7 linked regions of the Homo sapiens genome follow. The protein of the gene in region 1 interacts with the protein of each later gene in a biochemical or structural test. Each region holds a gene or a part of one and is shown on either strand. Other genes may lie near its edges. The genes, in order: RB1, CDK14, LIN9, PRDM2, RAF1, CCNA1 and RBBP7.

Evidence for each region.
Region 2: of the proteins of RB1 (region 1) and CDK14, one has a biochemical effect on the other in vitro, tested with the Homo sapiens proteins (2 studies listed by BioGRID).
Region 3: the proteins of RB1 (region 1) and LIN9 form a complex in vitro, tested with the Homo sapiens proteins (2 studies listed by BioGRID).
Region 4: the proteins of RB1 (region 1) and PRDM2 form a complex in vitro, tested with the Homo sapiens proteins (2 studies listed by BioGRID, with this or other methods).
Region 5: the proteins of RB1 (region 1) and RAF1 form a complex in vitro, tested with the Homo sapiens proteins (3 studies listed by BioGRID, with this or other methods).
Region 6: the proteins of RB1 (region 1) and CCNA1 form a complex in vitro, tested with the Homo sapiens proteins (2 studies listed by BioGRID, with this or other methods).
Region 7: the proteins of RB1 (region 1) and RBBP7 form a complex in vitro, tested with the Homo sapiens proteins (3 studies listed by BioGRID).

What each region holds. Positions count from the first base shown.
Region 1 is NC_000013.11:48,380,251-48,383,750, forward strand, and holds part of RB1 (retinoblastoma-associated protein), read left to right. Parts: intron 1-996; coding exon 997-1,193; coding exon of another isoform or gene 1,194-1,205; exon of another isoform or gene 1,206-3,500. UniProt on the Homo sapiens protein: Tumor suppressor that is a key regulator of the G1/S transition of the cell cycle. The hypophosphorylated form binds transcription regulators of the E2F family, preventing transcription of E2F-responsive genes.
Region 2 is NC_000007.14:90,728,821-90,732,320, reverse strand, and holds part of CDK14 (cyclin-dependent kinase 14), read right to left. Parts: intron 1-3,500. UniProt on the Homo sapiens protein: Serine/threonine-protein kinase involved in the control of the eukaryotic cell cycle, whose activity is controlled by an associated cyclin.
Region 3 is NC_000001.11:226,233,411-226,236,164, forward strand, and holds part of LIN9 (protein lin-9 homolog), read right to left. Parts: intron 114-2,754; coding exon 1-113. UniProt on the Homo sapiens protein: Acts as a tumor suppressor. Inhibits DNA synthesis. Its ability to inhibit oncogenic transformation is mediated through its association with RB1. Plays a role in the expression of genes required for the G1/S transition.
Region 4 is NC_000001.11:13,698,794-13,702,987, forward strand, and holds the start of PRDM2 (PR domain zinc finger protein 2), read left to right. Parts: upstream 1-1,394; 5' UTR 1,395-1,507; intron 1,508-4,194. UniProt on the Homo sapiens protein: S-adenosyl-L-methionine-dependent histone methyltransferase that specifically methylates 'Lys-9' of histone H3. May function as a DNA-binding transcription factor.
Region 5 is NC_000003.12:12,608,618-12,612,117, reverse strand, and holds part of RAF1 (RAF proto-oncogene serine/threonine-protein kinase), read left to right. Parts: intron 1-55; coding exon 56-168; intron 169-2,782; coding exon 2,783-2,885; intron 2,886-3,194; coding exon 3,195-3,352; intron 3,353-3,500. UniProt on the Homo sapiens protein: Serine/threonine-protein kinase that acts as a regulatory link between the membrane-associated Ras GTPases and the MAPK/ERK cascade, and this critical regulatory link functions as a switch determining cell fate decisions including proliferation, differentiation, apoptosis, survival and oncogenic transformation.
Region 6 is NC_000013.11:36,435,495-36,438,994, forward strand, and holds part of CCNA1 (cyclin-A1), read left to right. Parts: intron 1-2,134; coding exon 2,135-2,381; intron 2,382-2,572; coding exon 2,573-2,697; intron 2,698-3,149; coding exon 3,150-3,373; intron 3,374-3,500. UniProt on the Homo sapiens protein: May be involved in the control of the cell cycle at the G1/S (start) and G2/M (mitosis) transitions. May primarily function in the control of the germline meiotic cell cycle and additionally in the control of mitotic cell cycle in some somatic cells.
Region 7 is NC_000023.11:16,860,363-16,863,862, reverse strand, and holds part of RBBP7 (histone-binding protein RBBP7), read left to right. Parts: intron 1-762; coding exon 763-908; intron 909-3,500. UniProt on the Homo sapiens protein: Core histone-binding subunit that may target chromatin remodeling factors, histone acetyltransferases and histone deacetylases to their histone substrates in a manner that is regulated by nucleosomal DNA.

The sequences.
Region 1 (3,500 bases):
ATTTTCATAAATAAACACTTTTGTTCAATTTAAAGTTAAAATGTGGTGTGTTTCTTTGGTCGGGGGAGAGGGATAGTGTGAGGTTAAGGAGAAGGAATGCTTATTTTAGATCACTATATACTGAAGAATGTAATTGGTCATTATAAGCCATTTAAGAGGCTTATTTGAGTTATTTGAGGCCATCTTGGGGATAATATTTCACTAGGCTTCTCTTCTGAGTATACTGGTATACTGAATCCAAAAAAGGTACTTTTTGAAATCCCTCCGAAGACCTTTGAGATTGTAGAGTGCCAAAGGAGTATTCAAGAGTGGCCTCTACTGATATGGAAGCACTGCTGTAACCTCCATGGTTATGAAACTAAAGATTGAAGCTAGAATCCACTGGATAAACAGAACAAAGGCCAATTACAATGTTTTTAAAAACATAAATGTATATCACTTTGCAAATTATGTTGCAAATGTTAAAAGAAAGTTTTGCTTGCAGAAACAAAAGGAACATTTGTATAAGGATGCAAAACACAGAAAAAGAGGAACTTTTAGTTTCCTTATTAGTAAACAGATAAGGAAAACTGTGAATCCTCATTTATAACCAAGAAATGCATATTTTAATGAGATACCATTTTGTAACTAATGAAATTAGCAGAATCTTGAAGAATCTGTCTATCCTCTTACCAAGGATTAATGAGAATTAAAATAGATATGCCAATGGCTGATAAGATACTAAACCTGTTCCTGATATAAGTTTAGGGTATTTAAATCTTTGAAAATTTGAGATCAGCTATAAGTCCTTTCTCTAGGAAAAACACAGATTTGCTTACACTCAAAATTGGAAGGCTATTTCCTATGAGTCCGTAGACTCCAAAATAAAAAATTCTGCTCTAAATAAAAATGGTTTAACCTTTCTACTGTTTTCTTTGTCTGATAATAACTTCCAAAAAAATACCTAGCTCAAGGGTTAATATTTCATAAATAGTTACTTTTTTTTTTCATTTTTAGGAAGTACATCTCAGAATCTTGATTCTGGAACAGATTTGTCTTTCCCATGGATTCTGAATGTGCTTAATTTAAAAGCCTTTGATTTTTACAAAGTGATCGAAAGTTTTATCAAAGCAGAAGGCAACTTGACAAGAGAAATGATAAAACATTTAGAACGATGTGAACATCGAATCATGGAATCCCTTGCATGGCTCTCAGTAAGTAGCTAAATAATTGAAGAAATTCATTCATGTGCATATGGCTAACAAATTATTGTTAGTGAGAGGTGTTTCTTAACATCTACCTCAAGAACATATAGGGAATTTAATGAATAATGTTATTTCAGTCTATAGCCCAAGGATCAAGTGGAATATTAGAATGGAGCTTTAATCGAGCACCCTAAACCATCTAATACAGCACAGTGATTTATTTAAGAATAGCTTTTCTTAAAACATGCCACTTTAAAACAAAACGGATTTTTTTTTTATACTTTAAGTTCTAGGGTACATGTGCACAACGTGCAGGTTTGTTACATATGTATACATGTGCCATATTGGTGTGCTGCACCCATTAACTTGTCATTTACATTAGATATATCTCCTAATGCTATCCCTCCCTCCTCTCCCTACCCCATGACAGGCCCCAGTGTGTGATGTTCCCCACCCTGTGTCCACGTGTTCTCATTGTTCATTTCCCACCTATGAGTGAGAACATGCAGTGTTTGGTTTTCTGTCTTGGCAATAGTTTGCTCAGAATGATGGTTTCCAGCTTCATCCATGTCCCTACAAAGGACATGAACTCATCCTTTTTTATGGCTGCATAGTATATATGTGCCACATATTCCATGGTATATATGTGCCACATTTTCTTACTCCAGTCTATTATTGTTGGACATTTGGGTTGCTTCCAAGTCTTTGCTATTGTGAATAGTGCCACAATAAACATACGTGTGCATGTGTCTTTATAGCAGCATGATTTATAATCCTTTGGGTATATACCCAGTAATGAGATGGCTGGGTCAAATGCTATTTTTGGTTTTAGATCCTTGAGGAATCGCCACACTGTTGAACTAGTTTACAGTCCCACCAACAGTGTAAAAGTGTTCCTATTTCTTCACATCCTCTCCAGCATCTGTTGTTTCCTGACTTTTTAATGATCGCCATTCTAACTGGTGTGAGATGGTATTTCATTGTGGTTTTGATTTGCATTTCTCTGATGGCCAGTGATGATGAGCATTTTTTCATGTGTCTTTTGGCTGCATAAATGTCTTCTTTTGAGAAGTGTCTGTTCATATCTTTCACCCACTTTTTGATGGGGTTGATTTTTTCTTGTAAATTTGTTTGAGTTCTTTGTAGATTCTGGATATTAGCCCTTTGTCAGATGGGTAGATTGTAAAAGTTTTCTCCCATTCTGTAGGTTGCCTGTTCACTCTGATCGTAGTTTCTTTTGCTGTGCAGAAGCTCTTTAGTTTAATTAGATCCCATTTGTCAATTTTGGCTTTTGTTGCTATTGCTTTTGGTGTTTTAGTCATGAAGTCCTTGCCCATGCCGATGTCCTGAATGGTATTGCCTAGGTTTTCTTCTAGGGTTTTTATGGTTTTAGGTCTAACATTTAAGTCTTTAATCCATCTTGAATTAATTTTTGTACAAGGTGTAAGGAAGGGATCCAGTTTCAGCTTTCTACATATGGCTGGCCAGTTTTCCCAGCACCATTTATTAAATAGGGAATCCTTTCTCCATTTCTTGTTTTTGTCAGGTTTGTCAAAGATCAGATGGTTGTAGATGTGTGGTATTATTTCTGAGGGCCCTGTTCTAAACCAAAACAGAATTCTTTAAAGTATTTAGATAATTTATTTAAAGTACAGTTGTTATATATTTGAAAATGCAAATGTCTGCTCTTAAATTGTGAGATTATGCTATTTAGATTATTAAAAAGTGCATTTTTTTCTTGTTAAATATAGTAGGATTCATTTTTTCCCATTATTAAAGTATAAAAATGTATACTATTGTTCAATTATAGGTATTGGTTCAATCAATATAGGGGCACAAATTATATTGTCTAGGATTCTCTTTATAGCATTATAACTATTGATAAGGCTTTTGTTTTAATAAAAGTGGCAACTTGAGGTTATGCTCTTCAAATCAACATAGTTGGATAATACTTTGTGAATCATCAGTTTTGTAAATTAATGGTTTCTTTTGAAACTGTGTTGCATGCTAAGTATATATCTTTTAATTTGTATCAGTATATAGAAGTGGTAATTAAAAAATTAAGACTTTAGGTATGCCATAATCCTAATTTGCACATGTAACCTTAGTTTTAATTTCCTTACGTTTTGAATTTTTAATGACTAAGCGATAATTTATTTCTTAGTGTTTTCTTGTATTGCCATATAGACAGAGTGAATAGAGGAGAGAAACATGGGAAATTGATAGAAGAATGTTACACTCCTATTATTGAATTTCATAACTACTTATGGAATGAATTTACACTTGATAAGGAGTACTTAGAAGAAAACTTTCTGA
Region 2 (3,500 bases), on another chromosome or scaffold:
CAGAGACACAACAAAAAAAGAAAATTTCAAGCCAATATCCCTGATGAACATGGATGAGAAAATTCTCAATAAAATACTGGCAAACCAAATCCAGCAGCCCATCAAAAAGCTTATCCACCATGATCAAGTCGGCTTCATCCCTGGAATGCAAGGTTGGTTGAACATAAGCCAATCAATAAATGTAATCCATCACATAAACGGAACCAAGGACAAAAACCACATGATTATCTCAAAAGATGCAGAAAGGGCCTTTGACAAAATTCAACAGCCCCTCATGCTAAAAACTCTCAAGAAACTAGGTATTGATGGGATGTTTCTCAAAATAATAAGAGCTATTTATGATAAACCCACAACCAGTATCATACTGAATAAGCAAAAACTGGAAGCATTCCCTTTGAAAACCGGCACAAGACAAGGATGCCCTCTCTCACCCCTCCTATTCAACATAGTATTGGAAGTTCTGGCCAGGGCAATCAGGCAAGAGAAAGAAATAAAGTGTATTCAATTAGGAAAACAGGAAGTCAAATTGCCTCTGTTTGCAGAGACATGATTGTATATTTAGAAAACCCCATCATCTCAGCCCAAAATCTCCTTAAGCTGATAAGCAACTTCAACAAAGTCTCAGGATAAAAAATCAATGTGCAAAAATCACAAGCATTCCTATACACCAATAACAGACAAACAGACAGCCAAATCATGAGTGAACTCCCATTCACAATTGCTACAAAGAGAATAAAATACCTAGGAATCCAACTTACAAGGGATATGAAGGACCTCTTCAAGAAGAACTACAAACCACTGCTGAAAGAAATAAGAGGACAAAAACAAATGGAAAAACATTCCATGGTCATGGATATGAAGAATCAATATCATGAAAATGGCCATACTGCCTAAAGTAATTTATAGATTCAATGCTATCCCCATCAAGCTATCATTGACTTTCTTCACAGAACTGGAAAAAACTACTTTAAATTTCATATGGAGCCTGCATAGCCAAGACAATCCTAAACAAAAAGAACAAAGCTGGAGGCATCACACTACCTGACTTCAAACTATACTACAAGGCTACAGTAACAAAAACAGCATGGTACTGGTACAAAAACAGATATATAGACCAATGAACAGAACAGAGACCTGAGAAATAACACCACACATCTACAACCATCTGATCTCTGACAAACCTGACAAAAACAAAGCAATAGGAAAAGGGTTCCCTATTTAATAAATAGTGTTGGGAAAACTGGCTAGCCATATGTAAAAAGCCAAAACTGGATCCCTTGCTTACACCTTATACAAAATTAACTCAAGATGGGTTATAGACTTAAATGTAAGACCTAAAACCATAAAAACCCTAGAAGAAAACGTTGGCAATACCATTCAGGACACAGGCATGGGCAAAGACTTCATGACTAAAACACCAAAAGCAATGGCAACAAAAGCCAAAATTGACAAATGGGATCTAATTAAACGAAAGAGCTCCTGCACAGCAAAAGAAACTATCATCAGAGTGAACAGGCAAACTCCAGAATGGGAGAAAATTTTTATAATCTATCCATCTGACAAAGGGCTAATATCCAGAATCTACAAAGAACTTAAACAAATTTACAAGAGAAAAAAGAAAACAACATCAAAAAGTAGGCAAAGAATATGAACAGACAATTCTCAAAAGAAGACATTTATGCAGCCAACAAACATGAAAAAAAGCTCATCATCACTGGTCAGTAGAGAAATGCAAATCAAAACCACAATGAGATACCATCTCACGCCAGTTAGAATGATGATCATTGAAACATCAGGAAACAACAGATGCTGGAAAGGCTGTGAAGAAATAGGAATGCTTTTACACTATTGGTGGGAGTGTAAATTAGTTCAATCATCGTGGAAGACAGTGTGGCAATTCCTCAAGGATCTAGAACTAGAAACACCATTTGACCCAGCAATCCCATTACTGGGTATATACCCAAAGGATTGTAAATCATTCTGCTATAAAGACACATGCACACGTATGTTTACTGCAGCATAGTTCACAATAGCAAAGACTTGAAACCAACCCAAATGCCCATCAAAGATAGACTGAATTAAGAAAATGTGGCACATATACACCATGGAATACTATGCAGCCATAAAAAAGGATGAGTTCATGTCCTCTGCGCGGACATGGATGAAGCTGGAAACCATCATTCTCAGCAAACTAAGAGAAGAACAGAAAACCAAACACCACATGTTCTCACTCATAAGTGGGAGTTAAACAATGAGAACACATGGACACAGGGAGGGGAACATCATACACCAGGGCTAGGGGAGGGATAGCATTAGGAGAAATATCTAATGTAAATGACAGGTTGACGAGTGCAGCAATCCACCATGGCAAGTGTATACCTATGTAACAAACCTGCATGTTCTGCACATGTACCCCAGAACTTAAAGTATAATTTTAAAAAAAGAAAAAATATATTTTTTAAAAGGGCAGCAAACAGAAAGGACTCAGAAAAAAACAGGATATTATAGCATCCTGCTGAAAGAGAAAACGAAGCCATTTCCAGTTTGATAAGGTAAGAGAAAAGACATTTTTCCAGGGCACATTGAATTGAAGCAAAAATTCCTAAAATAAAAAGAAAGCAAAGCAGTTCCCACACAAAGTAATATAAATGACCTAATATATATTAAAAAAAGTCATCCCAGGGTGAACCAGGAAAGGGTAAGCCCAAGATGATCTAAAGAAACTAAAAAATACAATAGAGAAACTGTGAAAACTTCCAGTGAAACTTGATGGCTTGAAAACATGTATTTATCTCTCCCCCTTACCAATTCATACTAAAACAATACTAAAATTAAAACCCATAAGGGCAATCAAAATGAGTAAAGAGAACACTAGAGACGAGATAGAAATAAAAATGTAAAGACAGGACACAAATGGTTGAGAAGTCACATTGCCTAGGATGAGTGGGGAAAAAAAAAAAAAAAAAAAAAAAAAAACCTTGATACCTACATGATCCAAGGCATAAGCCAGTAAGAAATAAGTCAATTCATACTTCAGAATCCCAAAAATACTCACAAACTGGAAGCTGAAGTTCAAGTTGGGGCTACAAATGATATGATTAGTTGGAGTGAATTTAAGGTGGAGGTCTTTGCCCCAGTCTCCCTCGGCCAGCCCCCTATCCCTTCCTAGTCCCGCCAGAGATTTATTCTCTGAAGAGGTTGAATCAGAGAATTCAACTGGGGCTTGGATACCAGGCAGAGTGGATATCAGATTGAAGAGTCATACCGAATGAAAAAAAAAAAAATCATGAGAAAGTTGGCATAGAGAACTGAAGGGTCCTCAGTCCCTTCTTGATCATCTCAGAATAGTGACAGCTAGGTTTATATGTCCTAAAAAAAATAAATTGGGTAAGTCCATTTTGTGAGAAACACCCAGTAACAAAAACAAGATCAAGAGACAGCGACATTTGAGAGTACTTAAATAAAACGACTAGGTCTTCACCAAGAGTCCCTATGCTGAA
Region 3 (2,754 bases), on another chromosome or scaffold:
GGCTGTCCTGTTGAGGAATTTGCATGCCGAACAATTTCCTGTGCTTCTTCCTCACACCTGCGTCTCATATCTGTTGGCTGATCTGCAGGCTGGAGCCCCTGGTCTGGAGCAAGCTGAATACAGATGATTGAAGCATGAGACGCATGTTCGAGAAGCCATGATTATTTCTGTATGTGTTTGTGCCCTCTTTTCAGATTTTAATTTTTATAAAACTAGCATTTAAAACTAAAGTGGTACTCTTACCTTAGAAGTTTTTTTCCTTTAACAGTTTCTGATTTTCTATTTTTTGTAATTTTTAATTTTGATATAATTTCAAACTTCTAAAAAAAGTTAAAAGAATAAAACAAAGAACTCTTGATAACATTTACTCAGATTTACTGTTTATGTTTTACTACATTTGATCTGCCATTTGATCTCTGTGAATGTATAATTCTTCCCGTTACTAATTTAAGAATAAGTTGCAAACACTGTGCCTCATTACCTCTAATCACTCCAGTTTGTATTTCCTTGGTATTTTTGAAGAGTACGAGCCAATTATTTTGTGTAATATCCCCCAATGTGGGTTTGTTTGTTTCCTTATGATTAGACTGAAGTTATGCATTTTTGGGCAGAAATACTACAAATGTGGTGCTGAGTTCTCTGGCATCTTTATTAGAAGGCACGTGATGTTGACCTGTCCCATTACTGGTGATGTTCTCTTTGATCAATTGGTAAGTTAAGTGTCTGCCAGATTTCCCTACAGTAAAGGATTTCCTTTTTGTAAGTACTAAGTAGTTGTGAAGAGATACTTTGAGGCTATGTAAACATCCTATTTGTCATCAAACTTTTACCTACCAATTTTAGCATCTGTTGATGATTCTTGTCTATATCAATTATTACTATGATGGTTGCAAAATGGTGTTTTTCTCACTCTTAACACTGCTTCTATATTTATTAGTTGGCATTTTACTACAAAGTAGTTTCCCTTAAAAAATGAACTAGTATCAGTATGAACCCATACTGACATAACTTTTATTCTATGGGTTATAATCTCTTACTATATTTATTTATTCTGAAGCTCAAATTGTCCCAGATTTGGCCAGTGGGAACCCTGTCAAGCTGGCCCTTTTTGACACGTCCCCGTAATTTGGGGGCACATTTTACTTCCTTGGCATAATAAGGTGGGCCGGGCTCATCTTCTTTCTCTGCCTCAGGTCTGGAATCAGTCTCTTTTTCAAGAAGTCCTGCTTTTTTAAATTGGAGAACAGAGATAAGAGACCAAGATCTGGGTCTAGTGTGTTCTTTGCTATTAGGGTGTCTTTGCTTTTGGCTCTCTCAGCAGACATATACACTCACTTATACATATAGCATAAAGATAAAATAAACCATGAATTCATACTGATTCCCCCTATTCCCATCTAATGCCACAGGGTTCACTCTAGTCTTCCCCCTCTTCATAACTGCCTTCTTCAACAGTGAGAAACCTGGCTCGCGTTATCCTAAATTTTTTTTTTTTTTTTTTGAGACAGTCTCACTCTGTTGCCCAGGCTGGAGTGCAGTGGTGCGATCTCAGCTCACTGCAACCTCTGCCTCCCAGGTTCAATATACTTATTTGCTTCTTTGCTCAGTCCTAGAGTACACAGTAAGAGTTTCAGAACTGCTGCTGGGTGTGGTGGCTCATGCCTGTAATCCCAGTACTTTGGGAGGCCGAGGTGGGTGGATCACCTGAGGTCAGGAGTTCAAGACCAGCCTGGCCAACATGTCTCTACTAAAAATATAAAAATTAGCTGGGCATGGTGGTACATGCCTGTAATCATAGCTACTGGGGAGGCTGAGGCAGGAGAATCGCTTGAACCCCGGAGGCAGAGGTTGCAGTGAACCGAGATTGCGCCCCTGTACTCCAGCCTGGTGGACAAGAGCGAAAATCCGTCTCAAAAAAAAAAAAAAAAAAAAAGAGTTTCAGGACTGCTATGCATGCCACCAAGAGAAAAAATTCTACTAACTAGAGTTCAATGTTTATTTAAATTTTGGTTCAGACTAAAGGTATACAGTCAAAATATAAGTTGAGTATCCCTTATCCAAAATGCTTGGGACCAGAAGTGTTTTGGATTTAGGATTTTTTAAAATTTTAGAATATTTGCATTATACTTACCGGTTGAGAATCCCAAATACAAAACTCCAAAATCCAAACTGCTCCAGGGAGCATTTCCTTTGAGTTTCACTTTGGCACTCAAAAAATTTTGGACTTTGGAGCATTTCAGACTTGGGATGCTCAACCTATGCTATGTTCAAGCTATCTGAATCAGTTTTTATCCCCTTCAGTAAGTTTATGTCACTCCTTTGAAATATAGTTAGGTTCATTTATTTCTGTTTGCATTTACTTGTATTTGTTGGGGAAACAAACACTCAGAAAAATGTCATTCCTTCTTGCTCACCAACTCCTACCCCATTCCCAAATTAGTTTCTAATGTATCCTTTCTGCTTCCTTTTGAAAAATTAAGCTGATACATATACATTGTATTTCCACTTATTTCCTACTCCAAAGGTTATACTTTGGAATATGTATGTGTATTTTCGTATTTGCTTTTTGCATCTAATAACATATCCTGGAAATCACTCTGTGTCAGTAAATAGAGAACTTCCTCTCTTACAGCAGCATAGTATTCAATTGTGTGGATGTACCATAAATAGTCAGTTCCCTATGTGTGGGCATTTATGTTTATTTCTAATATTTTTTAATTACCAATAATGCTTCAATGAATAACTGTATCCTTT
Region 4 (4,194 bases), on another chromosome or scaffold:
CCACCACGCCTGGCTAATTTTTTGTATTTTTAGTAGAGACGGGGTTTCACTGTGTTAGCCAGGATGGTCTCGATCTCCTGACCTCGTGATCCACCCGCCTCGGCCTCCCAATGTGCTGGGATTACAGGCTGAGCCACCGCGCCCGGCCTAGCCTCATTCTTTTACAATAAGATAACATGATATATGTTGATACAACACGTTTTCTTTCTTTTTTGAGATGGAGTCTGTCTCTGTCGCCCAGGCTGGCGAGCAGTGGGGCGATCTTGGCTCACTGCAAGCTCCGTCTCCTGGGTTCACGCCATTCTCCTGCCTCAGCCTCCGGAGTAGCTGGGACTACAGGCACCCGCCACGTCGGCCGGCTAAATTTTTGTAGTTTTAGTAGAGACGGGGTTTCACCGTGTTAGCCAGGATGGTCTCGATCTCCTGACCTCGTGATCCACCTGCCTTGGCCTCCCAAAGTGCTGGGATTACAGGCGTGAGCCACTGCGCCCGGCCAACACGTTTTCTTAAGATTAAACCTGTTACATAAATGATCGTTCATAATTTTTGGAAGCACACCTGCCCTTAGTATCCTGTTTTTCCACTGGGTGCTTTCTGCAGATGGCCAACGTAGCCATCACATTCGGATTCTTCCTGACTTCATTCTCAGAGGATTACTTTATCTTGAAGTGCTGAAGGCTCCAGGCACCATCTATAACGACAACTCCCAACTTTCCAGCTCATCTCCAGCCTGTGCTTCTCCCCGACTCAACTCATTTTCAACCACGTGCTAGGCCTCCACCCTTGGATGTCGAAGAGCCATCTCCAGTTCCACCCAGTTCATCTTCATCAGAACATCTATGAGTCGTCGTCTCTGCAGTCCATTTGTTTGCCCGCTTGGGAACAGCAAGCTCCTTAAGGGCAGGACTACTACCGCGCTCTCAGAGGCGCTGCACTGGAACATCGCGGGCACAGGGCAGCGTTGGTCACTGCTCCTGGGTACTAGGGCAGCAAATAAACCCAGCAGCTGCGTCTGTCTGCCTGGAGTTGGATCTTTTTGGTATAGATCCAAACGTAGAAGTATAAGGTCTACGTTTATGTACTTGTCAGATATTTAATGACCTCCAACGATAGACATGCCCCCCCAACACCTCCTTCAGTCTTTTTGATTCTTTGAGAATCTTTGAACCACGCAGGATCCTAGCCCTAGGGTGCGGTCGGACTTGCCGCGACGCCAGCCGCCGGGGTTCCTTCCCGAGGCGCCGCCATGGGATCCGCGGTGACCTACGAGGGGCGGCTGGGTGGTGGCCATTGGGCGACGGCGCAGGGTCAAGGGCCGGGCTCTGGGATCGTGGGGAGACCGGGGGTCCCGGAGCCCCCCAGCCCCGCAGGCCACTGCCTCGCCGCCCGACGTCACTTCCGACTGGAGTCAAGATGGCGGCGGCGCGGCCGCGGGCGCCGGGGCCGGCGAAACAGCGGCGGCGGCGGCGGCCCTCGGTGCTCTGAGGCGCTGGCGCGGCGGGCGCGGGTAAGGAGTGGCGCGGGTGGGCGGCCTCTGGGCTCGCGCCGGGACGCTGGTCCCTCCCCCCGAGGAGCGCGGCGGCGACGGCGGCGGCGACACGCTGGGGACCCGGCGCCGCAGGGATGGCCGGGTCGGCGGACGCGCCCCCTCAGAGGTCCCGGGCGTGCCGGGGGCCCCGGGACGAGGCGCGGGCCTCCGGGTCGGTGGCCCCGCGGGTGGGTGGCGGCGCCGGGCTCCTCCTTGTCGGCCGTGGGGTCCCTGCGGCGAAGTTCGGGATTCGGTTTGTCGCCGTGAAGAGCCGCGCGCCCCGCGGGGGACGCGTGCGGGCTGCAGAGACTGGCCGGGTGCGGGCGGCGGTGGGGCCACCTGGGGCCCCACGTGGGGCCGGGCGCCGTCCCAATTGTCAAGCCGCTGTGCTTTTCTCTTTTGTGTTCCCACTGAGTGTGTCTTGCACATTTGCACTCCAAATTTGTTTTGTGTCTTGCGTCTTTGTGTTTCCCAAATAGTTTTTGTGTGGTTTTAACCTGGAGATTGTCTCCCTCAATGTTCCCATAGACCCACGGGTGTATGTGTGTGTGTGCGCACGCGCGCGTGTGTGTGTGTTACAGACGTGCAACTCTGTTACTAATTTTGCTAATAAAGCTATCAATGAACCTCTTTTGATGGTGGTAAGTGAGACATGAAGTAAACCTAACAGGTCAGTGTCATTCCCCAAACCTTCGTGGTTCTTTCGATCCACGCGTGAGCCACCGACCCTCCGGGCTTGTAGCTTTGTGTCGGGCTGTGAGCTGCGGCAAAGACCCCATAGTTAACCGGGAAGTCCTGATTTCCTTAACTACGCAGCTGAAATTTCCCCTAACAGAAATTTCGTGCTGGCCCCTCACTTTTCTTTTAGTGTTGTATTGAGATTTTGGGTGTATTTGAGACGTGGAACGTCTTTTGCTGAATCCCAGTAGGTCCTTAGATCCCTTTAACCAGACACTAGAAGAATCATTTTTACCCCAGAACTCGACTAAAATGTTTAAGTTTTTGTTTACTCCAGGTTTATTAAAAGTGACCGAAACTTTTAACAACAAATGGAACTCTTCAATGATTTCTTTTACAATGGTACACACTTCGCCTCGGTTTGATCAGTTGTGTCCAAGTATTAGAAAAATGTAGGCCTTTTAAAAAAAAACATGATAGGAAATTTACATATATTAAGGAGGAGGAACTGAGACACACTGTCATACGTTCTTTTTTAGTAGGGTTCTGTGTTTTTGAGATGGTCCAAACTGCCCCATCACTCTTGAGGCTTCCGGACTAACACTTATTGGCCAAATTTTTACATGTAGAATCTTAGTTTAGCCTTGAGATGACCTTTAAAGATCATTTTTATTAAACCCCCTCATTTCGAGCTATGGAAACAAATCAAAATTCACAGTGGAACTAAAACTCATTTACATTTTCTGTGATTCCAGGGCTCTTTTTACTCAACACATCTGTTTTGGTTTGATTGAAATAAGTTAATACATTTTAAGTGCTTAGAAAAGTGCCAGAACATGATAATACTGCTCAGTAAATGTTTGCTTTTGTTGATTCTGAAGGTGGTTTCTTTAATTGAAAGGTTGGTATGTTCAGGTTTGTTTTTTCCTTATTTTGTGGACAGGGCCTGAAACAGTACAGTTTAAATCTGTAAGAATGTATTAATTTTGTAAGTACAAAACATAACAAAAGATTCTCACTGTAGAAAATTGGAAAGTAGAGAAAAGCACAAAGAAGAAACAGAAATTGGGCATAACCTTCCCCTCTTCAGATAACCATTGTTAACGTTTGGCAGATCTTCCTGTCTCTCTTGGTGTGGATATGCGTATTTCTTTCCTTATTTTACAGTTCATTCACATATATATATATTTATTTACATTTTATACAGGATTGATAATATAGTGTGTATATTGTTTGCAACCTGTCTTGCCTTATGATACGGTGAGCATGTATCCATGCCACTAACTAGTCAATATTATGTTTAATGGCTATTTAATATGTGGATGGGCCGTAAGTTATCAATCAAGTCCATATTGATCTGTAAGGTTTCTCAAGCCTGAGTTTTCTTTTCATTAAGATTTGTTTGAAAGTTTTTTTAAAATCGTGGGTTTTAAAGTTCTGTAATCTTTTGAGATTACAGTGAAAAATATAAATTCTGCTTTTTAGCATCTAAATAAGCATTTTTCTTGCGGGTGCAGTCATAAGAAGTAACACTCAATTTCAGCTTCCTTTCTTCCGTTCTTGGCTGTGGCTGTGCAGTTATGTACATATATCTGCGCCTATTCTTTTGATGATTATTTTACGTTAGATGTTTATTTATTCATGAGACTGTTTCTTTAAGCAGCCTGTTTCTTTTCAAGTTCCAAACCTGATTTACAAACCCTTTTTAAGTCCTGTTAAATCATAGACTTTCCAGGATGGAAAGCACCTTAGGTTATTTACTATTTTCATGTCTTCTGAGTAGCTTTTCATGTTATTTTTAATACTCATGCAGAAAAAAAACCAAAACAGCGGACTTCTACTAGAAAACTCCATAATGGGGAGTGGAAGAGGAGGAGGTTGATGGTTGGGGGAAAATCGTCAAACTTGCATGACGATGGGTAGCTAAGGGAGTTTCCAGATGATGAGGGACATCACCTGACTGTCCTTACCACAGATAACTGCCGCCC
Region 5 (3,500 bases), on another chromosome or scaffold:
TTTCCAAGGGGTGCTGCAGCCTGTGTTGGTCCTAAAGGTGGTCCTTTGTTTGTAGGTCAATGTGCGAAATGGAATGAGCTTGCATGACTGCCTTATGAAAGCACTCAAGGTGAGGGGCCTGCAACCAGAGTGCTGTGCAGTGTTCAGACTTCTCCACGAACACAAAGGGTAAGAGCTCAAAAGTCAATTGACTTCTTCAGACTAGTAAGGATCTTCTAGCTTCAAATAGCTATGTTTGTATTAAATTGTACTAGCTTCCTATAGAATATTGTATATTTCTATACCTTTCTTTATAAAGAGATAATTCAGAAAAATAGGTATTAAGAAATTGAAATTATTGCTTGGACATTCTCTTGAAAAGTTAAATACACGTTAAGCTGGGCCTGATGACCAATACCTGTAATTTTTTTTTCTTTTTGAGGTGGAGTCTTGCTCTGTCGCCCAGGCTGGAGTGCAGTGGCGCGATCTCGGCTCACCGCAAGCTCCGCCTCCCGGGTTCACGCCATTTTCCTGCCTCAGCCTCCGGAGTAGCTGGGACTACAGGCGCCCACCACCGCGCCCGGCTAATTTTTTGTATTTTTAGTAGAGACGGGGTTTCACCGTGTTAGCCAGGATGGTAATACCCGTAATTTTAACACTGGGAAACTGAGGCAAGAGGGTTGCTTGAGGCCAAGAGTTCAAGACCAGCCTGGGCACATAGCGAAGGCCCATCTCTACAAAAGATTTTTAAAAATTAGCCAGGCATGGTGGTGCGGCCCTGTAGTCCTAGCTGTTCGAAAGGCTGACGTGAGAATATTGCATGACCCCAGGGGCTTGAGGCTGCAGTGAGTCATGATTGTGCTACTGGACTCCAGCCTGGGCTGGAGCAAGATCCTGTCTATTAAAAAAAGCCAAAAAACAAAAAAACAAAAACAAACACATGTTAGGTATTGATAATGTTTCCATGGATGGAAACAGTGATGTTAGATGCTGTGTTTTTTTGAGACAAAGATTTTTCTTTGTGTTTACTCTAATGCATTATATAGACTGGGCACTCAGAAAGTGCATTATTTTATATAAAGAATGCTATCCTCGGGAGATTGACTTTTCTCATTCACTAATTTTTTTTTTTATTCAGTTAAATGTGTACTAATCCCTGCTGTTTGATAGATTGTTTAAAGATGCAGAAGCATTTCTGCTTCAGGGAAGATTCATGGTTTATCCTATTCCTAATGGTGGTGGCAAGATAGAGGCATCCCCTCAAAGGCTAGGAGTAATACCTCAAAGCAGCAGAGCTGTCCATAATTATCCATTATCCATTATTCCCTCCACCCCGAAAATATAGGGAAACCTTTAAAGGGTTCTTTTTTACCCTCTTCTTGGAAAGCGTCACTTATGTTATTCATCGTTAGCTTACATTTTTTCATGTTTCAAAGAGTTCTGCAGTTTGGGAGAATAGCCCAGGGAATGAATCTACTCGAAGGGGTGAGTGTAATTCTCAATTTAGGAGGCGTTTGTTGAAGTGCAAATCTTTGAAGCAGACGTTAACTTTTGCTGAAGGTAGCCCAGGTTGGGTCCCTAAGCCAATCCATAGTGTTCCTTAAGGACTAGAGAGATTCTGAGACAGGGAGGGCTTGGTCTACTCTCATCCAAGGCTGCACTGGTTTGGAGCTACTCTGGAGTCTCTAGGACAGACAGCAGATTGTCACTAGGATCAGTCTGCAGATTGATGAGAAAATAAGGCTTGTCCTCCTTCTCTTCATAAGGGCAAAATAGTCCTTTGGAGTTATAGGAAGTTTTCCAGGTGCTGTATAGGTAATTATATTAAGGAATGTATTGTTTACTGTTGGATAGTGAGAAAAATGGCTTGACTAGGCTTCTGGTAGATAATGGAGAGGCTTGAATGGTGCTATACATGTTATTTTCTCTTTACCTGAGAATATTCTTCCTTTGGAAAATGGGCCAGATTAACTGGATAAAACATAAGAAAGGAATTGGGCATTACTTTTTACTTATGTATCTATTTTTTGTCTTATTTATACTGTAGGCACAGAAAGTGTGGTTTCAGAGTAGATTTTAAGACAGTTAAGTTTCTCATTGACTTATAGACCCTACAACTACAGATTTGAGTCTGTTATTAATTAATAGAAAAGTACATTTTTCATTTGTGGTTCCTTTCTATTTATCTAGATTGAAATAGGCTACTGAAGACTAAATTTTGTACTGCAGCAATATTTATAATCCATTTTACAGGATTTGGGGATTTTTGTAAGATTTTAGTGTTACAAATTCCAATTTAACGTATATTGACTTTATTGTGAGATTTTATATATCATTGTTTAAAGAAAACTTTATTCTGGCCAGACATGGTGGTTCACACCTGTAATCCCAGCACTTTGGGAGGCTGAGGCAGGAGGACCGCTTGAGGCCAGGGATTCAAGACCAGCCTGGGCAACACAGCAAGACTCTCTCTCTACCAAAAAACATTTTTTTAAGTAAATAAAGAGAAAACTTTATTCTGAGAACATGGGCTTTGGAGTTCAACAGACCTAGATTCCAACATAGGCCCTTAAACTTGCTGTGTGGCCTTGAGCAAATTACCTTCTTAGAGTCCCAGTTTTCTTATTTTTCAGATAGAAATAATACCTACTTCATAGGTTTGTTGTATGAATTAAATAAATTATTGTTGTATGGATTAAATAAAGTTGTGTTTATATGGCATGTGATAAATGGTAGCTGTTGTTATTTCTATTGAACTTTGATCTTGTTTAAACATTTCATGTTTTTTTTAAATCCTTTCTAGTAAAAAAGCACGCTTAGATTGGAATACTGATGCTGCGTCTTTGATTGGAGAAGAACTTCAAGTAGATTTCCTGGATCATGTTCCCCTCACAACACACAACTTTGTAAGTTGCAGATCTCTTCTCTTTCTGGCATGTTGAGGGCTTTGCCAGGCATAACAGAGATTTCTCAGGTAATATGCGTATGTATATATATATATAGTTGGATTGTTTAAAGTTCTTTATGCTGTTGTTTACAGTAAGGCAATTTAGATTTCATTAGTCAGAGATATACTCTAATTTGTGATTATGAATTCTGTACATGCTGGAAGTATGATTCATTTTGTAAAAACTTTTTTGGAGGCCAAGAAATGAAGTTGTCTTTTGTCATCTTTTATTTATTCAGCATAATTTACACCTGTGTTCTTGTTGTAGGCTCGGAAGACGTTCCTGAAGCTTGCCTTCTGTGACATCTGTCAGAAATTCCTGCTCAATGGATTTCGATGTCAGACTTGTGGCTACAAATTTCATGAGCACTGTAGCACCAAAGTACCTACTATGTGTGTGGACTGGAGTAACATCAGACAACTCTTGTAAGGCATTGTTCTTTTATCCAAGGAAGATAGGGATGAGGAGTATACATACTTTAAAGGGTATTTGTTGTAGATTTTGACTGACAGGTCTGGATTCTAGACTCATTTAATGAATTGTGATCCAGAAACTACTTTAGAAACAGTGATA
Region 6 (3,500 bases), about 12 Mb from region 1:
TTTTTTCCTTGAAATAATTTCTTCTCATTCAGCTTGTAGAACACCACTCTCTCCAAGTTTTCTACCTAGCTCATTGGCCACTGTTTGATATTCTAATTGTTACTTATATATATAGTCTGTACAAGTTAGAGTGCCCTAGGACCTAGTCTTTGATCTAAATCTTGCACTCACTCCCTTAGTAGCCTCTTAGTCTCCTAGCATTAAACACTCTCTATTTGGTGATGACTGATATTTCTATCTCTGGCCTGGGCCTCTGAGGTTTATTGCAGGCTCACATATTCAGGAGCCTACTTGGCATCTCCACTTAGGTCATATAATAAGCAACGTATAAAACGAAACACCCATCCTTTTCCCTACTCCCAGACTGCTCTTCCCAAGTCTTCCTTGTCTCAGTAAATGGAGTAGCCATCCTTTCTGTTATTTAGCCTCCAAACCTTTGTCTTCCTCGATTCTTATTTTTCTCTCACCCCACATCTAATCTTATGAGAAAATATTATTAACTCTACTTTTTAAATGTCTAGAACTATTTTGCTCTTCATGGTTTACAATTACTTCCCTGGTTCAAATCCCTATTGTGTCTCACTTAGAATTTTCAAGTTTTGTAATTGATTGGCTTACTTACTCTCCACCTGTGCACAGCCAGAATCATCCTTTTAAGAAATGAAAAGATTATGCCACTCCTTTGCCCAAAATTCCAGTGGCTCCTGTCTCTGAATAAAAGCCAATTCTTAGATCAGCCTTGGCAAGTGAACAAAAACAAAATAATAGTAATGAAAACTAATCCTTAATTGGCCTATGGTAAGTGCTTCATGATTGGCCTCTTTTTTCTTTCTGTCCTCATGGCCTATATGACTGTCTCACTCTGCTCTGTTTGCTCCTACTGTGTCTTTTCTAGTTTGTTTCAGTCTTCTTCCACAGACTAGAATATAAACTCCATCAAGGTAGTTCTTTTTAAACATTTTGTTCACTGCTAAATTCTGGGCACGAGAAAAGCTTCTAGCACATAGTAGATACTCAGTAAATATTTGTTTATTAAATATATGTCCCAGCCTATGGACACAGTATCTATGTAGCAAGAGTCAAACCTGGCAGTAACTTGGAGCTGTGGTTGTAGCAAGAGTCAAACTTCGCAGTAACTTGGTTATCTGGTTACAGTAACTTATGATTGTGACTCTTTGTTGTCTTTGTGATTTCCCCCCAATTACTACCATAAGTGTTCGTTTTCTTACAGACATAAGTCACCTATTTAACTTGATAAATAAAAGGGAGAGTTATGGAACCACCTACTAACTTAGAAGTAGCCTTCAACAGTACACACCAAGATACATTATAAACAAAATGTTAATGTGGTAGACAGAGCTGGCATTTGCGTAAATATAGCTCAGGTTCATAGAGCTGCCCACCTGCCCTGATTCAGCTGACATTCATGCCATCTGGCATGGCTCACCTTAATATGCAACAGTGTTTGATGCATTATGCTTGTTCACTGTGGCGGCACCACAGTTGTTCCCATTGTTCATGTTATAAGAATAGAGAAAAAGGAGAAGTGACTAAGAAATTTCCCCAAGAGTAAATGCATTATGTCATACGTAAAGGTTCTGTGGCTTGTAAGAGAATTTAGCAGCATCAGTTTCCAAAATCGTGTTTCTTAATAAGTGGATATAAAATGGAAACATTATAGGGGCCTTCTGGCTAAAAAGTTATTTATTTAAGGAGGGGAATTGTAGGAACTCAGTCACTGCATCAAGAGTTATGCTGACTACTTATAAAATCTCATGATGCTATAAATATGAAAGCCAATTTACAGTTTTCCCTTTATATGTGGTACCCATTTCATTTTGGAAGAGAGCTATAGGTTTTCTTTTTTCTACAATCTTGAGTTTCCTTTGATACATATGTGAGGTAGATTAAAATTTTAGGTAGCTCTTTCTCCAAATATCAAATGTAGACAAAGATAAGGGGGGAAAAATTACACTTTTGAAGACCTTTTTTTTTTGGAATTAAATTGCCGACATAGATTTTTCAGTTTAGAATGTATCTTACCTTCCCAGGCTGTTGGTTTGAGTCATGCAGGTTCACATTGCCTCTGTGGTCTTTGACGTGGCCTCTAACAAAAGATTTAAACGTTTTTTAGGGGATCACAAGAATCAGGTGTTATTCTGGATCAGAAAATGCCTTCCCTCCAGCTGGAAAGAAAGCACTCCCTGACTGTGGGGTCCAAGAGCCCCCCAAGCAAGGGTTTGACATCTACATGGATGAACTAGAGCAGGGGGACAGAGACAGCTGCTCGGTCAGAGAGGGGATGGCATTTGAGGATGTGTATGAAGTAGACACCGGCACACTCAAGTCAGACCTGCACTTCCTGCTGGATTTCAACACAGGTAACTGACTTGCCTATGGTTGATGGCTGATGGTACCCTGTATTTATAACTGCCTGCAGCATTCAATAGCTAGTAACTAGCAAGAGAAAAACAGCAAGTAATAACTGTATTCACAACTGCCTGTAGAGGGTTAGTGGATTGAACAAATGTTTAAATTAAATGAGTTATCTGACAGTGTTGAACTCTTGCAGTTTCCCCTATGCTGGTAGATTCATCTCTCCTCTCCCAGTCTGAAGATATATCCAGTCTTGGCACAGATGTGATAAATGTGACTGAATATGCTGAAGAAATTTATCAGTACCTTAGGGAAGCTGAAGTAAGTTTTCCCACCTTCTACTTCAATCTTCAGGACCCGAGCTCTTATTACTAAGATAAATTATAAACTCTTGGTCCATAACCACTAGTGAATGGCACTCTTATGCCAGCTAAACATAAGAATATCTATGAAAAATAATAGTTGTGATGGCAAGTCGCAATTGCTTGGACTATTTCTACATGATTCAAAGGGTTTATATGTTAAATATTTCACTCTTAGGAATAATTCATATTGCCATTCTCCCCTGCCCCCCCAACCCCAGGTTAATTTGCTAACCAATTACTTTACAGAACCAGAAATTTACACTTTCTTCCTTGTTATGATAAAGATTTATTTGGCTCTGATCAGAATCTTTCCAACCTTTGCTTGTGAGATTTTTAAATAGCAACTATATTGTGGAATGATCTTTCTGAAATTGCAACTACTAAATATCAAAACCTTTTCCCAATCAGATAAGGCACAGACCCAAAGCACACTACATGAAGAAGCAGCCAGACATCACGGAAGGCATGCGCACGATTCTGGTGGACTGGCTGGTGGAGGTTGGGGAAGAATATAAACTTCGAGCAGAGACCCTGTATCTGGCTGTCAACTTCCTGGACAGGTTCCTTTCATGTATGTCTGTTCTGAGAGGGAAACTGCAGCTCGTAGGAACAGCAGCTATGCTTTTGGCTTCGTAAGTGTTCTTTCAGCTTGCATAATATGAAACTATCACTTGTCAAAACATGGAATTTTTGTCCTCTATTTCTTATTGAAGAAATGCAATGCTTGATAATTAAAACTAGTCATGTGTCCTTTGATAA
Region 7 (3,500 bases), on another chromosome or scaffold:
GATACTGATGCAAAAATCACTGCTCGGACCAAGGTGCCAAGAGGTTTGGGCAAGTTCTTCAGCCTCAAGGTGTTTCCACAGAACAAGGTAACAAAGATACCTCGGTAAAATTGAGAATGTTCGTTTCATAAACTTAGGTATCATAAACGTCAGTGAGTTTCACATCATGCCATTTGCACTTATAGCCTATTTTATTCAGTGAAGAAACTGAGGCCCCAGGGAGGTTGTGTTTTAAGCAACTGCATTTTAGTTTGATCCAGGATTTAAGCTAAGTTTTTTTGATTCAACACTTTCTGTCCATACTACCTTGTAGAATTTCTTATTGGGAAATAAGAAACATCTAGTGTATAAGATATTTTTAGGTGGGAAGAAGATTTCTTTAGGTGGGAAGTTGTGATTTATGAGTGTGGGGATTGTTGGTGGATTCCTGTGTAGATGTTTGTCTGTGTTTACTGAGTTGGGCCTACCTTCCCCGGAGTGCTGCTCTATAAAAGGTAGTGTTCACGCTGATAATTGAGGCACAGGAGGATGGCTCTTTGGGAAAGAAGCAAGCCCTCTGCATGTTGTAGCTAGAATATTTTCTTATATTTGCATATGTGGGGATTGTAAAGTTGGTAACCAGAGGGGGAGAAGATACACAGTTGATGCTAAGTATATATTTGCTAAAGAAATATGAATGTATTTTGAGGGAACTAGACTGAATTTGTTAGCAATTGGAGATTTCTTGTAGGATTAGTGTGACTTATTTTCTTTCTTAAACAGACCTGAAGGAAAAGATTATGCCCTTCATTGGCTAGTGCTGGGGACTCATACGTCTGATGAGCAGAATCATCTGGTGGTTGCTCGAGTACATATTCCCAATGATGATGCACAGTTTGATGCTTCCCATTGTGACAGTGACAAGGGTGGTAGGTATATCATATATTCCAATATTGGTGTCAAAGGGAAAATGTCTCTTTCAAAGCATATGCTATTAAAACTATACTATTAGCTTTTGGCCCAGTAATTTAACTTCTAGGACTTTATTCTACAGAACTTCCCACCCACATGTGCACAAGGATTTTAGTCGTAATTGCAGAATTGAAAAATTAGGATCAACCTTGTAACCCAGATGTTGGTTCATAGAAAGTTGGTTAAGCACATGGTATGTTTGAAATACTACTCAGCAATTAATAAGAAAGGCCAGGTGCCATGGCTCACGCCTATAATCCCAGCACTTTGGGAGGCCAAGGTGGGAGGATTGCTTGAACTCAGGAGTTCAAGCCCAGTCTGAAAAACACAGACCTCATTTCTACCAAAAATTTAAAAAAAAAATTTTTTTTTTTAATGAGAAAAATCTGTAGGCACTGGTATAGGAAGGTATCCAAGATAAATTAAGTGACTAACTGCTATGTGTAATTACAGTATTCCACTTTGGTAAAAGTAATATGTGTTGGTGTGTGCAATGGGTATTTTTTGTTTGAGGAGAGAGGCAGTAGTGGTAGGGTTAATTCAGGAATCTGTTGGCTGCTTTTTTCTTTTTTTAATTTGTCAAACATATACTCTCCTGTTTTGGTATTCCCATGACCACCCCAAGTTTGGTGATTTTGCTAGGACTCCCAAGAGCAAATTATACTTGTGGCTAAAGTTTGTTACAGTAAAGAACACAAAAGCAGCAGGAAAAAGATGTACATCGGCAAGTTCAGGGAGGTCTGGCACAAGTCTTGTCCAAGGCCACACAGGATGTGTCTTCCGGCAGCAAACTGCAGGGACATGTGTGAAATATCTCTGCTCAGGGAAGCCTGTTTGGGTCTTGGGGTCTGAGGCTTTCTTGGGGGACTAGTTGCATAGGCACATCCTGCTGACAACCAGCCACAGCAACTGTAACTTGAGGACCCCAGTAATACAAACTGAGGACCCAGTAATAAAAGAAGGTACGTGTCATCAATCTTGATATCTGCAGAGTAACCCTGACAAACTGGTACAACGCGGTCCATTGCTCCAGGTGCACACCACAAAATCATCAGTTCATCAGTGACAGAAAGAACATTCTGAGGTGCATGTTCCCAGGAGTTAGCCAAGGGTCAGTAATAGGGTCCCAGTGTTCCTCAGAGACTCCAGGGCTAAGCACCCAGACTGCTGTATTAACTCTTTCTTCACAGTCCCAAATGGCTTAACGCTATTAGCACTTTCTAATATGTGCCTTAGGGTTTTTTTCTTATTGAAAATAAAATACTGGCCAGGTGCAGTGGCTATACCCATAGTCCCAACACTTCGGGAGGCCAAGGCAGGAGGAACGCTTGAGCCTGGGAGTTTAAGACCACTCAGGGCACACAGTGAGACATTGTCTCTATCAAAAAATAAAATTAAAAATCAGCCATGTGTGGTGGCGCATGCCTGTAGTCCTAGCTACTTGGGAGGCTGAGGATCGCTTGAGCCCAGGAGTTCGAAGCTGTAGTGAACTAGGATCACACCACTGCACTCCACCCTGAGCAACAGAGCAAGATCCTGTCTCAAAAATACTACATTCTCTAGTGTAGTGAAACTGCTAGGTTGTATGGTGTATTCATTGTCAACTTCATAGAAAACTATTTTCCAAAGTGATTTACCCAGTTTACTACTCCCACAATTTACTGTTCATTCCCCGACAACTGTATGCATTATTTCTTTAAATATTGGGGTTTTTTTGTGTTTTGTTTTTGTTTGTTATGAGGCAGGGTCTCGCTCAGTCGCCCAGGCTGGAGTGCAGTGGTGCAATCTCGGCTCACTGCAACCTCCACCTCCTGGGTTCAAGTGATTCTCGTACCTCAGCCTCAAGAGTAGCTGGGATTACAGGCGTCCACCACCATGCCCGGCTAATTTTTGTATTTTTAGTAGAGACTGGGTTTTGTCATGTTGGCCAGGCAGGTCTCGAACTCCTGGCCTCAAGTGATTCGCCTGCCTAAACTTCCCAAAGTGCTGGAATTACAGGCATGAGCCACCACTCCCGGCCTGAATATATTGTAATCAGAAATTTTTAAATGGCTTTTAGCCCTGAAGTATGTATTTACCGGGCTTGCAGTTTAACAGTCTCTGCATAATGATGTTAATATATTATTAAAGTTACACATCCAGTGTATTCTAACAAGTAGCTGAAATAATTCAGTTAATACCTTTGTTAATATTCAGTATATATATTTTTTTTTTCTTTTTTTTTTTCTTTTTTTTTTCGAGACGAAGTTTCGCTCTGTCACCCAGGCTGGAGTGCAGTGGTGTGACCTCAGCTCACTGCAACCTCTGCCTCCTGGGTTCAAGCGATTTCCCGAGTAGCTGGGACTACAGGCGCCCGCCACCACACCTAGCTGATTTTTTGTATTTTTAGTAGAGACGGGGTTTCACCTTGTTAGCCAGGATGGTCTTGCTTTCCTGACCTCATGATCCGCACGCCTTGGCCTCCCAAAGTGCCGGGATTACAGGCATGAGCCACCACGCCCGGCCAATATTGAGTTACATTTTTTAATGGATATTATCATTAAGACAGT